2 separate regions of the Homo sapiens genome follow, and region 2 is linked to region 1. The links come from fine-mapping of genetic effects on gene expression. Tissue or cell type: whole blood. Region 1 holds a variant in brackets; the other region holds the start of a gene. All regions are shown on one strand. Distances are between the middles of the regions.

The links. PIP is the estimated chance that this variant, and not a neighbour inherited with it, causes the effect.
Region 2: it holds the start of CRIM1, and the variant in region 1 is fine-mapped to the expression of CRIM1 in whole blood (INTERVAL, PIP 0.90).

Annotation. Positions count from the first base shown.
Region 1 is chr2:36,603,398-36,611,505 of GRCh38, forward strand. No RefSeq gene overlaps it. Among named protein-coding and RNA genes, the nearest start is that of FEZ2, 9.3 kb to the left of the region's middle. The variant G/A (reference allele first, on the strand shown) is at 3,493.
Region 2 is chr2:36,351,646-36,359,753 of GRCh38, forward strand. It overlaps CRIM1 (cysteine rich transmembrane BMP regulator 1), which reads left to right and starts at 4,133. Exons shown (of 17, transcript NM_016441.3): 1 at 4,133-4,978. The coding sequence starts at 4,648. It overlaps CRIM1-DT (CRIM1 divergent transcript), which reads right to left and starts at 3,925. Exons shown (of 2, transcript NR_037631.1): 1 at 3,443-3,925; 2 at 3,104-3,336.

The DNA.
Region 1 (8,108 bases):
ATTCCTCAGTTTAGCCTTCCCACCTCTATACAGTCTGATAACAGACTAGCCTTTATTAGTCAAATTAGCCAAGCAGTTTTTCAGGCTCTTAGTATTCAGTGAAATCTTTATATCCCTTATGGTCCTCTGTCTTCAAGAAAATTAGAATGGACAAAAGGTCTTTTAAAAACACACCTCACCAAGCTCAGCCACCAACTTAAAAAGGACTGGACAATACTTTTACCACTTTCGCTTCTCAGAAGTCAGACCTGTCCTCAAAATGCTACAGGGCACAGCCCATTTAAGCTCCTGTATAGACACTCCTTTTTATTAGGCCCCAGTCTCATTCGACACCAGACCAACTTAGACTGTGCCCCAAAAAAACTTGTCATCCGTACTATCTTTTGTCTAGTCATACTCCTATTCACCGTTCTCAACTACTCATACATGCCCTGCTCTTGTTTACACTGCCGGTTTACGCTGTTTCTCCAAGCCATCACAGCTGATATCTCCTGGTGCTATCCCCAAACTGCCACTCTAAACTCTTGAAGTAAATAAATAATCTTTGCTGGCAGGACTATGCTGAATCTCCTTAGGCACTCTCTAATCAGATGTCCTAGGCCCTCCCAATTCTTAGACCTTTTATACCTGTTTTTCTCCTTCTCTTATTCCATTTAGTTTCTCAATTCATACAAAACCGTATCCAGCCCATCACCAATCATTCTATATGACAAATGTTTCTTCTTACATCCCCACAATACCACCCCTTACCACAAGACCTCCCTTCAGCTTAATCTCTCCCACTCTAGGTTCCCACGCCACCCCTAATCCCACTTGAAGCAGCCCTGAGAAACATCGCCCATTCTCTCTCCATACCACCCCCCCAAAATTTTCGCTGCCCCAACACTTCAACACTATTTTGTTTTATTTTTCTTATTAATATAAGAAGGCAGGAATGTCAGGCCTCTGAGCCCAAGCCAAGCCATCGCATCCCCTGTGACTTGCACGTATACACCCAGATGGCCCGAAGTAACTGAAGATCCACAAAAGAAGTAAAAATAGCCTTAACTGATGACATTCCGCCATTGTGATTTGTTCCTGCCCCACCCTAACTGATCAATGTACTTTGTAATCTCCCCCACCCTTAAGAAGGTTCTTTGTAATTCTCCCCACCCTTGAGAATGTACTTTGTGAGATCCACCCCTGCCCGCAAAACATTGCTCTTAACTTCACCGCCTGACCCAAAACCTATAAGAACTAATGATAATCCATCTCCCTTTGCTGACTCTCTTTTCGGACTCAGCCCACCTGCATCCAGGTGAAATAAACAGCCGTGTTGCTCACACAAAGCCTGTTTGGTGGTCTCTTCACACGGACGCGCATGAAACTAGCCAAACATGATGGCACACGCCTATAATCTCAGCCTCCCAAGTAGCTGAGACTACAGGCGCCCGCCACCACGCCCGGCTAATTTCTTGTATTTTTACTGGAGACGGGGTTTCACCGCGTTAGCCAGGATGGTCTCGATCTCCTGACCTCGTGATCCGCCTGCCTCAGCCTCCCAAAGTGCTGGGATTACAGGCGTAAGCCACCGTACCTGGCCAAAAAAATATTTTTTTAAAGGGAGGAAAAAGTAAATATTATCATAAGGAAATACGAATGTGTAGAGGCAACGAATGCTCAGGAGTTGAGAAGAGTGACATCTCTGGACTGGCATGATCAAATACTTCACTTAGAAGGTGGAGCTGGTTAGGTGATGAAAGATGAGCTCATAGTTTGAAAAATAAATCTGAAGTTAGTAATAGAGAATAAATTTTTCCCAATATGCTTTGTCCATCTCTTGGCAGCATGGAAACACATTTTCATGAATACATGTTAATACCAACATTTTCTTGTTTACTAGTCCAATAAATGTTGTGTTTTACTTTAGTGATTTGTCCCATATCAAATGAAATAGTTCTGTGATTAACCCTAAGATACTGTTTAATTAAAAGAAATGTTGTTCCCTATTTCCTTTGAAACCATAAAGGGAGTGGATGTTGATCCCCAGTTAGCCAAGAGCTAGAACTAATTAGTCAACAGTGAACAATAGCTTTTGGATTGATGAGAAAACATTCTGACTCAGCTATCTGAACATTACTCAAAAGTGATGCTCCAAAGTATCAAAGAGCTATTTTTCTCCAGGTGTTTGACTACAGACACAAAGTTATGAGGAAACTATCTAGTTGATGCAGACTCTCTAAATTATGTACATGGCTAAGATAAAATTCATTTATTTTTCTTGACTCATATTTCCATTTACCTGTTATAATGTGTCCACATATGAGTGAAAATGATTGCTCTTAGAACCCAAATGTAGCACTGTCAAAATTTCCAGATGTTCTTAAATAAATTGCCACTGGTTTAGCTCCAATGGTATTACAATTTTATTTTAGTCAAATTTCTTACACAGGATGCTTTTTACTTTTAATTAAATATAAATTACTTGATATTACCCTATGCATTTTGAATATCCCTTTGGGAAAACAAGATGAAAATCACTTTTCTTGGTCAACTTATGTTTGCACACTCATGGTAACCTTGGCACTCAACGCTATCCATAAGAATGCTCCAAATAGATATGTCTGTGAGAAAACACTATATTTCTCTATAGTTTTGCCACTTCATAGGGACAGAGCAATTAGATTAGAAAGAAACTGTAGAGTGGAATAAATTGTTAATTGGTGCTTTGGTAGATTTTAAATAGTTAACTGTAAACATAAACACGTAACAGCAGAAAACTGTTTAAATACTTGTAAATTTAAACCGTTTAAATGTTTGTAACCAGATAAAATTATAAAGTAGCAATGTTTCTCTGCAGTGCCTACCACACATCTCTCCTTCCCATGTTTATCTGGGGACTTCAGGTTGCTCCACAGCCTTCCAGATCATCCTACAGGAGGAGAGACCATGTTCCACTCAGGTCGTGGCCCCATTCCCTTATCCCCGCCTTTTCCTTTAGTTCCTTTGGTACTGGGCCCAGACTTCTTTAAGAGAATCCGGCTCCAAGTTACTGTTTTGTAAACCCCTTCTCTTAATAATTCCTGACAGCAAGCTTAGCTCATTTCCCAGCAACTCTCATACCCATCAGCCAAATTCTAGCTTCCTACACTGCCACAAATCTAGAAAAACCACAGGCTTCTTGCCAGCCTCACCTGTTTTGATCAGTCCATCAATACCCAAAAGCTTCCAATTAAGAAGAGGTTCTTTCACTTTGTTATATCTCACATAACCTACTTCTACTAATTTGTCCGCGAAAATCTATTTATTTTGGACCTTTTATTTCCTACCAACTCCTGAAGGCCATAAGAAAATGAACATGTGTAAACATGCTTGCTCACTTGATATATTAAGAAAAGCTAGCCTATTGAATTAATTTTCAGCCCTTGATTCAAAATTAGAAAGAGAATATAGAAGAACTTTTAAAGAGAGCTTCATAGCACTTGAGCATTATATGCATATTAATCATTTAAG[G/A]TTTAAAAGGTTACTTTTCTGGTTTGACAATGTACATAAATTTTGCGCATATATATCAGAGTGGAAGTTTATATGACAAAAAATTTAAAAATAAGTTATTCAACATATAGGTCACCTGTCTTGGCCCATTTTGTGTTGCTATAACAGAATACCACAGACTGAGTAATTTATAAAGAAATTGATTTCTCACAGTTCTGGAGGTGAGGAAGTCCAAGATTATGGTGCTGACATCCGGTGAGAGCTTTCATGTTGTGTCATCTCAAGGCAGAAGGTGGAAGGGCAAGAGAGTGTGAGAGAGCAGGGAGAGAAGGAAAGTCAGACTGATCCATTTATCAGAAATCTGCTTCTGCCATAACTAACCCACTTCTGGGATAATGCTATTAATTCATTGATGAGGGCATTGTCCCCGTGATCCAAACACCTCTCAAAGGTCCCATCTCTCAAAACTGTTGCATTGGGGATGAAGTTTCCAACACATAAACTTTAGGGGACACGTTCAAACCATAGCACTACCTAAAAGTATAATCAGTCAGAAAATATAAGAACTGCAAAAGACACTGTTGAATAGAAAACCAAAAAATATCTGGTTGTTAAAGTATCATATTTAGCAAAGGCCAGAGGCATTATAAAGCAACAGTAAAATAATGAGAATGTATGTAAATGAAAGTTTATTGAGAAGATCTAAGGTAATTGCTGATATCATTTATAACTAGAAGAAAAAAAACAGCTGATGACACAAAAGTAAAAATAATTTAAAAATCTATATGGTGACCCAATAATTTAAGGAAAGGTTGCTTGCTTGCCAAAAAGGAAAGAGCAGCTTCTCTTCACTTTTTCTCCAGTAAGAAAAAAAAATCAAATTAACCAGACACAGTGGCATGTGCCTGTAGTCCAAATTACTTGGGAGGCTGAGGCAGGAGGATCACTTGAGCCCAGGAGTTCATTACAATGAGCTATGATGGCACCACTACACTTCAGCCTGGGTGACAAAGCAAGACCCTGTCTCTTAAAACACAAAAATCAAGAAACTGTTGAGGAGACAAAGACCACAATCTAGAATTTATTAATGAATATTTCATTCCAGTTCATTCAAGTTCGATAGAGATAAATCTTCAGTGAACAGCCATACCTTCCATTTTAATGATTAAGCCAGCGTCCTGATCAGGCAAAACCACCTTGAGAAGAAGCAGTAGTAGGCTCCAAGAGAAGGAACCAAGGTGACTGGCCACGGCTGCACCCTTACAAGGCACCTCAATAGCTGGGTAGGGAAAACTGCCAAGTGCATGCCTGCTTGTGTTCTGAGTAATCAAATGCTGGTGTCTTAAAAATAAATGGAAACAACCATTGGCAGTAGTTGTTTATCTGACATTATAATTTGTTTACCATCCCTCCTATTTTGCCTCTTGATGAAATCTGTATTTTATACTACAGTTATATAAATTAACTTCACTGGAAAGTAATACAAAATTAATAAAATAGACTATTGTCATTGGTGGACTTGAGTTTTCAGGGAGGCATTTGAGGCACTAATTTGAGAAGAAGAAAAAAATCAGTGGAAATGGGAAATCTTTCTCTGGCCCGTACAGGAAAGAAAAAAAAAAAAGATGAAGAAAAGAGAAAAAGCTGTGAACCTTCAAGAAAACAGGAATAAGTCCACTTCCCACTGAATTGGGGGAAAACCAGTGAGAAAAAAAGCAGAAAAAAGTTACAATGAGCACAGTGACTGTCAGTAGGTGACACCGTAATAGAGTAACAGGGCACATCTGGAGACTAGGTGGCATCAAAAGAGGCACCAACAGGTTTATAGAGAGAAATTGACATAGACAATTCAGAGGCATTTGCAGCTGAAAAGAAACAAGGAGACTTGAATTATATTTGGGTAGCGTTATGTTTTATTTTCTGGCATACTTATTAATATAAATTTCTTATAAGAGTACTTGTCCCAAATTTTCCTTAGTTTCAAGTGTTGGGGCAAGGGAACCATACTATCCAGCAATATTCCACAAAATCAGCCAGATGAGTCTGCCAAAATTTGCACTAAGGGTAGTATAAGAATGAGCATTAGGCCAGGCGCAGTAGCTCATGCCGGTAATCCAGCACTTTGGGAGACCGAGGCAGGCGGATTACTTGAGGCCTGGAGCTCGAGACCAGCCTGGTCAATCATGGCAAAACCGCATCTCTACTAAAAATACAAAAATTAGCGGGGCATAATGGCTCATGCTTGTAGTCCCAGCTACTCAGGAGGCTGAGGCACAAGAATCATTTGAACCCGGGAGGCAGAGGTTGCAGTGAGCAGAGATCACACCACTGCACTCCAGTCTGGGCAACAGCGAGACTGACCTCAAAAAAAAAAAAAAAAAAAAAAAAAAAAAAGGATGACTGTTAAACTGTCCTATTCCTTTGGAATTTTATTTTCTTAGGTCTTTGTTTTTCATTTGTATTCTTTCCTCTAAGTTTTTATATTCAAACATATTAAAATTTCCTGTCTTTAAAAAAGGAAAACTTCATTGTAAACAAGGTAGGGATGAAGTGGGACTAAAGGTGAGGATGTCTATTTTACATTAAACATTTTAATTTTTTTAAGCTGTAAGTTTAGTAGGATTTTTTCTTCTCTTTTTAAGTGTGATCAAAATGTCTTGACAGCAAAAGAGCTGCACCAATATTGCTCATCAAAATAGCTTAATCAAAATGTTATGTAGCTAAATAAAAATCCCACTTAAGTCAGATGGGTGTTGGTCTACAGAAACAAAACAAAGTAGCCTATTAAGATAATTGTTTACATAATTTAAGCAAACAGACATGTAATTGCTCAATTTTCTGCCTGATTTGACTAGGGCAGACATAAAAGTAAGCTAGTTGTTTCTAATCTGGTATTAAAGGGTTTAGCATAGGAGATTTGTTAATTCCTTGTTCTTATTGTTTAAAGAAAGAAATGTTAGTTTCATTCCATGTTGCAAAGACAGAGACAGTAACTTTGTAACTCCGGAGGATTGATTTGCTCTTTGGAAAACTGGATTAGTGCATACCCCGGATGTCTGTGAGTCTCACCAAACTGGGATTTGTGATGAACTGAATTACCACCAGTGCCTGAATTTCAGTATCTCATTCACCCCCAGCCATGGAAATGCAAGACTCCTGGTACCCCAAGTGCCTACATTGTGCTGTTGATGTACGCAGGTCTGTGGGTAAGTGAGCACGGGAGACAGCAAGCGCTCTCCAGACTGCATCTACCCAGATGGGCCAGCTAAACTCAGCCTCAGCCTTCTCCTTTTGTTATGAGCTAAACTGTGTCCCCTCAAAATCCATAGTTGAAGCTGTAAGCCCCAGCACCTCAGAGTATGACTGTATTTAGAGATAAAGTCTTCATAGATGTAATTGAGTTAAAATGAAGAATTTTTGGCTAGACACAGTGGCTCACACCTATAATCCCTATAATCCCTGCACTTTGGGAGGCCGAGGCGGGCGGATCACTCACTTGAGGTCAGGAGTTTGAGACCAGCCTGGCCAACATGATGAAATGCTGTCTCTACTAAAAATATTATATGTATATGTATATATATTAGCTGGGCATGGTGGCTTGAGCCTGTAATCCCAGCTACTCGCGAGGCTGAGGCAGGAGAATCACTTGAACCCAGGAGGTGGAAGTTGCAGTGAGCCAAGATCACACCATTGCCCTCCGGCATGGGCGACAGAGTGAGACTGTCTCAAATTAAAAATAAAAAGAAAAAAGAGAGAAAAGAAAATTTGTTAAGGGTGTGCCCTAATCCAGTCTGACTGGTATCTAGAGGAAATTTGGACACATAAGAAAACAGCATGGATGCACTCACACAGAGGAGAGACCACGCGAGGACACAGTGAGATGACGACCATGTGCGGGCCGAGGAGAGACGCCTCAGCAGAAACCAACCCAGCTGACACCTTCGTCTTAGACTTCTAGCCTCCGGAACTGTGAGGACATGAATTTATTTTGCTTCAGCTGTCCAGTCTGTGATATTTTGTGATGGGAGCTCTCACAGACTGATACACCATCCATAGTCATCCCAGTGGTTCCTGGGAGTCTCCACAGAGATGGGACAGATATGATTCTGTTCTTCCTTCTGGCTTCTTTGTCGTCTTGAATATTGCTCTCTCCTAGAAATAACAGCAACTGGCCGTTAACTGGGTGACTTACTAGTGAGAGCAGAACCAGAGCTTTCTGCCTACCCTATGACCCACCTACAGGTGAGAAAACTAGAAATTCTAAAGAAGAATTCGAGTCGTTGAGATGCAGAACTGTCAGCCAGATTAGGAGGGAGGGCCTGGGGTGCTTCCTACTCAAGCCAATTGTGAGGGCTTCCTGAGGAGCAGAGTGTGGGCCAATCTCGCAAGAAGGATCAATAAACAGTGTCTTTCTCCCCAGCTGGTTGGATACTTAGATGAAGGACCTGGACACTGCTGCCCCTGTGAGCCCAGAGTGGGACACCATGAGCGAGTTCCTGGGAGATCCTGATTGAAGTCCCCTGGAGTTTGGAGACACATGGGAAGTTAAAAACTGAGGCAAACTCTTGCCTAAAGAACTCTGAAGGCATGAGGCTGGGGAGCTTCCCATGATGACAGTGCTGAGAAAGAGGTCTACA
Region 2 (8,108 bases), 250 kb before region 1:
CAATTTCAGATTAAGAGTCCAACATCCAGATGGTTGAGCCTCCAAACTAGGGTCTGTCTATATCACTGCAGTGCCAAGCCTAGATTAAGTGAGAACCCATATATAGGTGATCCCAGCTGAGGAGACCAGAGAGATGGCCTAAGAGGGTAAAACGGGCCAGACCTGCTACCCTGGTTTATTCGTACCACTTTCTAATATGTATGCAACGTTTTCATAACACAATGAGGTTTCTTCTCTTGTGCAACTCAATTCCAAGAGTATGTGAGTCAAACTCAAAGGCAACTTCTACATTCTTCTTTTCATTTCAGGAAGAGAAAATACAAAGTGCAACTCAATTCCAAGAGTATGTGAGCCAAACTCAAAGGCAACTTCTACATTTTTCTTTTCATTTCAGGAAGAGAAAATACAGAGTGTGACTATAGGTGGACTAGACACTGTATCGGAAAGGCGGGGTCTAATACTAACATTCTGTCTATTGCCCTCTCATTTCCACTTTCTGCTTAGGCCAACAAATGGGCACTTTGATTTTCGACATTTTCAACAATTTATTAATCCCCAGGATGGCCAATAGAGGGCAGACGATCTCTTCTTCTAGACCTCCATCAGAAATACTTCGTAATTCCTGGTTCGTTGCAGACCTGTTCCCCAACCCCTCCCCCACCCCCCCACCACCCCCACCCCAAACTTCGATGACTCCCTCCTGCCCATACCATCCCTTTCAAGTACTGATTTTGAGGTATTTACTAAAACCAAGAGAGAAGGGCTGCAGACAATAATATTCAAATATCATTTTGACTGTAATTCTTCACTCTCCCTTTTTCAACTCATTCATGCATGCATTTTTATAAATCCTGCCCTCTCCAATAAGCTGACAAGCTAATTGGGTTCAGAGTTATTTAAATAACTATAATGTAACATGATAAATGCTACAAGCAGAGGTACTTACAAATGCTGTAGAACAGATAAAGAAGCTCAAGAAGGCTTCTCAGAAAGGGAGGCCTTTCATGTGTGGCTCTAATTCTTAACATTCGTTCATGACTTTCAGGGTCCATTCAATTTCAGGGTAATTCTTCCTAGTCCACTTTCACCCGTGACACCTGATTGTCATCATGTTGGGCTCACCCAAACTCTTTCTGTAACCATAGTCTGGTCTTTGAAGATAAGAAAATACTTTTGTATTCGAGCCTCAGTATCATTGCCTCAGCTTCTCACTACCTCATTATCATCCCTCCTGGATCCCAGAGAAGAAAGAGCTGTTTCATAACTGAGCTCCTGATTCACACACTGGTTTCAGAAAAGCTGCCAGGACCTTGCAGGTTTCTCATTCGCCACTAGTCACTGGCTTCAAGGAATCCTATTTTCTCTATTGCTTCTATGACTATTAATTTTATGCCAAAGGGCATGTGTAATGTAACTTGATTTTTTTTTTCTTTTTGAGCTGATACAATCATCTTCATCTTAAAGAATCTCCCTAGTCCTTTCTAAACCTGACTTGAATTCCTGTGAGAAGTCAACCTTTCTCATGTTGTATCTGTCCATCTACCTTCCAGGTGGTTCTACTTCTGAAGTCCCAGGAACAATGAATAGTCATCTCCAAATTATCCTTTGCCTGTGCTCATCTGTAGCTTTCCTTAATCCTTAATATATCCCCTTAAAAATAAATAGAAGCTAAACTTTGACAATGCTTATTACCTCCTTCTTTCCTAACCACAGTAGCTTTCTCACTTCTGCCTTTTTCTCATCACCTGACCTTGGCTTTTCCTGCAGGTCCTACAATGTTATCTGCTACATTTTAATGTCTTTATACTTGCATTTGAACAGAAATACAGATAACCTCCTCTGCAAGAGTGGGAGGGACCTTTTAACACAGAGCAATGATGACAGTTTGTTGGCAAATCCCACACTGAAGTGCTGGTGCCTTGTTCGGTGACAAGAAAGAACAATGTTTAACAATGTGTGTTTTATTTTTCTTCAGTTTTTTTGTTTGTTTGTTTTTGAGACAGAGTCTTGCTCTGTCGCCCAGGCTGGAGTGCAATGACGCAATCTCGGCTCACTGCAACCTTCACCTCCTGGGTTCAAGTGATTCTCCTGCCTCAGCCTCCTGAGTAGCTGGGATTACAGGCATGCGCTACCACACCCGGCTAATTTTTGTATTTTTGATAGAGACAGGGTTTCACCATGTTTCACCATGTTGGCCAGGCTGGTCTCGAATTCCTTACCTCAAGTGATCTGCCCACCTTGGCCTCCCAAAGTGCTGGGATTATAGGCATGAGCCACCACGCCCAGTCTCTTCGGTTTTTCTAATAGAAAACCTAGCATATTTTAAACGATTTTGCCACTTAACACTTATTATGGACCCACAGGGTATGAGGGCCTTTGGAGATCATCTAATCGGACTTCCCACCCAACTACAGGAATCATTTCATTGCAACAACTCTTTAAACCCGTCTAGAAAATGCAATGCTCTCTCCCCTTTTCCACGGTTGAACATCTTCCTCATGGCCCTATAATAATCAATGATAATTAATGAGCCTCTTCCTCTCCTTGGACAAAGAAATATGATAGGAGAAATGTTTAGTTTGCTGATGCCCATCATGGGGGAATAGTCCACTGGTAACTCTGGCTTTTGGGTTCAGGATTAGACAGAGTGGTTAAACTAAAATATTTATCGTAAGTATGAATTTGTTCCACAAACATAACATTTCAAAGGTAGCTTTGTTTCCTCTTTCCTTGCACTGCCAGCTATTAACTTTCGGTTCATTAGTCACGATTTTCAGAATCCACTTGGCTGCCACCTTCCTGCAGCCAGACCATCTTGGATCAGAGGGTGGGCCAGCCATTCCCACGTCACACCTGCCACGGGATCGATTTTTTCCCCCATTGACCACAGTCACTTTTTGTCAATTAATTAATGTTATTCACCTGGTACCCATCTTGTGAATGGTAGGTCACTACGGAGCGGATTACTACTTCATATCCCATCAATGACAGAGCCATCATTACGAAAACCTTTTCTGACAACCACTGAAGAGAAACCATCTCCACACCGTGCATTTTGCATCACTTCCGTTGCTTCTTTACCTGATTTATCACAAAGACTATGTACCACACATCTTCTTTATTAATGCATTGACAATCAGTGAAGACAATGAAAACCCACCACTTTTGTCCGTGAACTGAGAAAGAAAATGGCAATGTCATATGGCATTAATGATGCATGAGATCTATGGGTGTAGTGTCACGTCTAGGCGTGTAGTAATCCAGTCTTCGGCCTTACTCCAGGGAGAAAGATTCAGCTTTGTTACTTTCCAGTCACTCTCTCCCGTAACACAGCACCTTGGCACAGAAAGCAGAGCGACAAAACCCAGAATGAGGACAGTTAAAATTCAACTCAAGCTACAGCCATCCCAACGGTCCTCCCCAGCTCCCGCGGAATATTTACCAAGACCGTTTAAAGCACTTAATTAATTCACTTCAGCTTCGCTGGAGAGGTCTCAGGGTTCCCGAGACTCCATTACATAATATCTTTCACAAAGTCTATTCCCAGCTCGAATGGAAGATGGATTCTCATCCAGTGTGCGGAGGTTCCATGCCTTTGCTTCCCTTTCCCGGAGTTCGATCCGGCGATACCCTCCCGAGGCTGCAGCCATCGCCCCGGCCCCGAGCTTCTGGGGTACCCGCCACTCTTCGAACTCCAATCTGGCCCCGAAGGTGCAGCCGCCTCGCCCTCCTGGCTCCCAGGCCGGCCGCTGCGGCCACGGTGCCAGCGAGCGCCCGGGACACCGCGACTCTCGCTGCTCGCTGGGTGCGCCCCAAGCCCATCCGCAGCGCACCCGCGGCGCCGGGGCCAGAGCCGCAGCTCGGTGGCACGGCCGGCTCGGTGCGCCGGGCTCGGGGAGGAGGAGATCGGGAAGAGGTGGAGGCGTGTGAGGGAGGGAGGAAGGGCCCGGCCGCCCGAGAGGGGGAGGGGGAGGCGGAGGGGGCCGGCCGGGCCGGGGAGGGGGGGCAGCCAATGAGCGGCGCGCGGCGCGTGGGGGTGGGGGGAAGGTCTGGGGGAGGAGGTAGGATGGGGGAGGGCGCAGCCCGAGCGGCTGAGGCTCCAGCCATAAACAAGCGCCCGGAGGAGCGGCGCAGGAGTGAGGCGAGCGGGGCGCGCGGAGCGGACGCCGCGGATCTTGTGCTGCGCCACCGCGCCCACTCGGCAGCTCGGGAGGCGGGGACCGGCCCGGAGGCTGCGCCGCTGCGGGGCCGGCCGACTCGGAGGAGGAGAGGGAGGAGGCGCCGCCGGCCCGGGCTGGAGCCGAGCGCAGCAGCCACCGCCGCCGCCGCGCCAGAAGTTTGGGTTGAACCGGAGCTGCCGGGAGGAAACTTTTTTCTTTTTTCCCCCTCCCTCCCGGGAGGAGGAGGAGGAGGAGGAGGGGAAGCTGCCGCCGGCGCCAAGGCTCGTGGGCTCGGGGTCGGCGCGGCCCGCAGAAGGGGCGGGGGCCTCGCCCCGCGAGGGGAGGCGCGCCCCGGGGGCCCCGAGAGGGGCGGTGAGGACCGCGGGCTGCTGGTGCGGCGGCGGCGGCGCGTGTGCCCCGCGCAGGGGAGGGCGCCCGCCCCGCTCCCGGCCCGGCTGCGAGGAGGAGGCGGCGGCGGCGCAGGAGGATGTACTTGGTGGCGGGGGACAGGGGGTTGGCCGGCTGCGGGCACCTCCTGGTCTCGCTGCTGGGGCTGCTGCTGCTGCTGGCGCGCTCCGGCACCCGGGCGCTGGTCTGCCTGCCCTGTGACGAGTCCAAGTGCGAGGAGCCCAGGAACTGCCCGGGGAGCATCGTGCAGGGCGTCTGCGGCTGCTGCTACACGTGCGCCAGCCAGAGGAACGAGAGCTGCGGCGGCACCTTCGGGATTTACGGAACCTGCGACCGGGGGCTGCGTTGTGTCATCCGCCCCCCGCTCAATGGCGACTCCCTCACCGAGTACGAAGCGGGCGTTTGCGAAGGTACGGCCGCCCGCTGCGGGCCCCCTCCCACCTGGCCTGCGCCGCCCCCTCGGCGCTGGTTGTGCCGAACAAAGTTTGGGCGAGACTTTCTGGAGGAAAGAGGGCTCTGCGGGAAGAGGGGCGGCCGCCGCCCCCAGGAGAGTGCCCCCGCGGCCCTGCGTTCCCTCTCCTTGTTCCCCCCGACGCTTAGGCAGTCGCGGGCGAGGTTGGGTATGGTGGGTGGGGGCGAGCGAGTGGAGGATCGCCCCTGTCCCCGCGCAGACGCGCACACGTGTGGCCGTTCCTGCTGGGACTGGGTGGCCCGGCCTTGCTCCCCGAGGTGGGGGCGCCGCGGGCGGGGGGCACTGCAGATTCTGCCGCGCGCGAGCCCCTCGGGGAGCCCGGCCCTACCGCCCTCCCCGCACTGGCGCAGTGTGGCACCGTGAGCCGCACGCCGGCCGCGAAAGTCCTTTTTCTGTTGGCGGAGGAGACGTGTCTCCAGCTCGCACTCCCCGAGTGACTCTTATTATTTTTTCCTTGAGCTCTTCCTTCACCCCTTCCTCCTCCTCCGCAGATAAATCAGTTTCAGCCGCGGAATATGTCAGCCCAGGGGAAGTTACACACGGTGGTTACTCATTTATTTGCCCATTGTAAACGGTCAAAGGCTTTCTCTCCTGAAAGGAAAGGGGGGTGGGGGTTGCACCTGGGAGTAAAAAGTTGTTGCTATTAGTGGCTGCTTTTTAATATCAGATACCCGCGTGTTTCCTGTCGTGTTGCCGGTTCCTCCTTTTTGTTTGTTTGACAGCGGGGATTGTTCTGCTGGCTTCTCCAGCACGCATTGTGCTCCGCGGTGTCGAGATTGACGGTGGGAGAAACAGATTAGATTAGTGGAGTCTTTCTCGTTGGGGAGCCAATGTTAGTGCGTGTTGGCTTTAATCCCTGCCCGCTTGCGTCGGCCTTCAGGGTGCCTGGTCTGGTTTGGGGTCTAGAGCGAGGCAGTGAGTTATTTTGATGTGGCTAACGGGGGCACGGTTCGGTAAGCATCAGTTAAAAGTGGGATCCCTGCTCTGGCTGACGTTGGGCTGATGATGCTGTTCCGGGGGCATCCTGGCGAGTGAGCAGAGCGCACGCAGCAGCCTCGTTTCTGGGGAGGCGGCGAGGAGGGACAGGCGCCCTCTGCCCGGCGTGCCTTCCTCACTACTCACAGCCAGCACCGTCCAGGGAACGGTTTATTCCGAAGCATCTTTGTGTGTGTTTGTTTAGTATGCTGGGATACTGAAAAAGGAGGTGACAGCCTTAAGGATAACAATGGACCTATTAAAAGGCTTCAGTGCTGTGATTCTCTCTAAATACGCACAGACACACACATAGGTACTTATTTATACCTGAATAGTTTGGGGTTTGGACAGTTCAGGAAAATAGGGGAGGGTTTTCTGGTTTGGAAGCTAGTGGGCAGTGATGAGTGAAGGGAACTCTTCTCAGAGGGGAGGGACTTGCTCTTGCTTTGCTGCACACGTAAGACATTGGGTTAGAAGAGATCATTTGCCTGAAGTACAAAAAAGCCTCTCACCTGGTATTGTCCCCTTTTATAACTTGTTTTTATGCCTTACCTCAAGAAAAATGGCCATGAGATTAACTTCTGATACCATTGTATGTGTTTTGACTTTGGGAATTCTGAATGACCTAGACTAAAAGATGCATCTTTGAACCCTGCCGCTTCAAGTGTATAACTTAATCCGGCCTCTCGTAAATCTGAAAAGAACAGGCGACATGAAACACAGTTAAATGCAGTGGAAACTGCTGTGTTCCAAGAAGGACTTTTGCAGGTTCTGAAGATTCTAACCCTTGTTTTGTTTCTTCTTAGTCTGTTTCTGGTGAAGGAAGTGCTCAGGGAACATTTACAGTAATCGAGTGTTGTGGCAGCAATATCCCATGTCACAGTATAGAGTTATTTTGGCAGTTTCGTGAGCCTTTCATTCCTCTGAAATGATGTGATCCCTCATAGCTTCCTTTTTTCTGGCAACACCCTGTGTGCTTGGTATTCGCTTTGAAATGCTTGGAAGGGTTTGTTGACATGATTATATCTCAATTAGTTTCTCTAGAAACACTTTTTATTTTACAGGCCTGTTTTCAACTATCAATATTGTGTGTCCAGGGCACTTCCTTTAAAAAAAAAAATACTGAAAACAGCAGTCAACTTGCATTCTAAATCTGTGAAACCAAAGTAAGGACAGTGTTACCTGGCATGATATAATGGTTGGATTTAGACAGATATTTTCAATCGTGTGTTTACAATTTCAGTGTTTTCACTTAACGACAAGATTTATGGAAAGCATGGGATAAGTGATACCCCAACCGCCCCCCGCCTGCCATTTTTAAAAAAAGAATTAGAGGAGCCTTCAGATGTCAGCAGTTACCTAGAAGGTATTGATTATCTCTTGTTTTTCTGTGAGTTTACAAGAAATTTCGGAATGGCCAGTGTTTCCCTCAGTTTCCATTTTTATTCAGAAATTCACGTGGTGAAGCATGGTTATCATAACTAACATGAATAGGAATCAATATATTTTATTCATGTTGAAGTCTCTTTTGCTGCAATTTTTGCACTAAAATGACCCCTACTGGTTGTATCTGTTAATGAAAACTCTTGAAAACTTATTTAATTGGCTACGTTGTAAAAACATATTGCATGTTATAGAAATATTATCATGACTAATCTCCCTGCTTTCGATGACATAATTTAAATACAAATTATATTCTCTGTTTGCCAACTTGCAGTAATTTTTAGCAGTGTTTACTCTCATACTGGCTTTGTAGGGGAAAAAAATTACGTTTTTAACTGCAGTTCACAAAATGAGTTAGATAAATCATGGGCAGAAATGGGCCCCTTTCAGCTTGTGGCTCACAGCCTTAGGTTTTTAAGGCATGCTGGTCTAGTTGGCTCTCAGTAAAAGTACATTGAACAAACGGAAGAACAATCCTATCCATAGAAAGAATGCTGAAGGAAAAAAAATATTTTCTGAATGATTAAATAATGTGATGAGTTGTGTCCTGTGCACCATGTGAGATGTGCACTTGGATTTCTTTTCCGCATTGTTTAGATTGTTATTAAATAAATTCTAATTGAATTATTCCTTTTGTGGTGGGGGCTGGG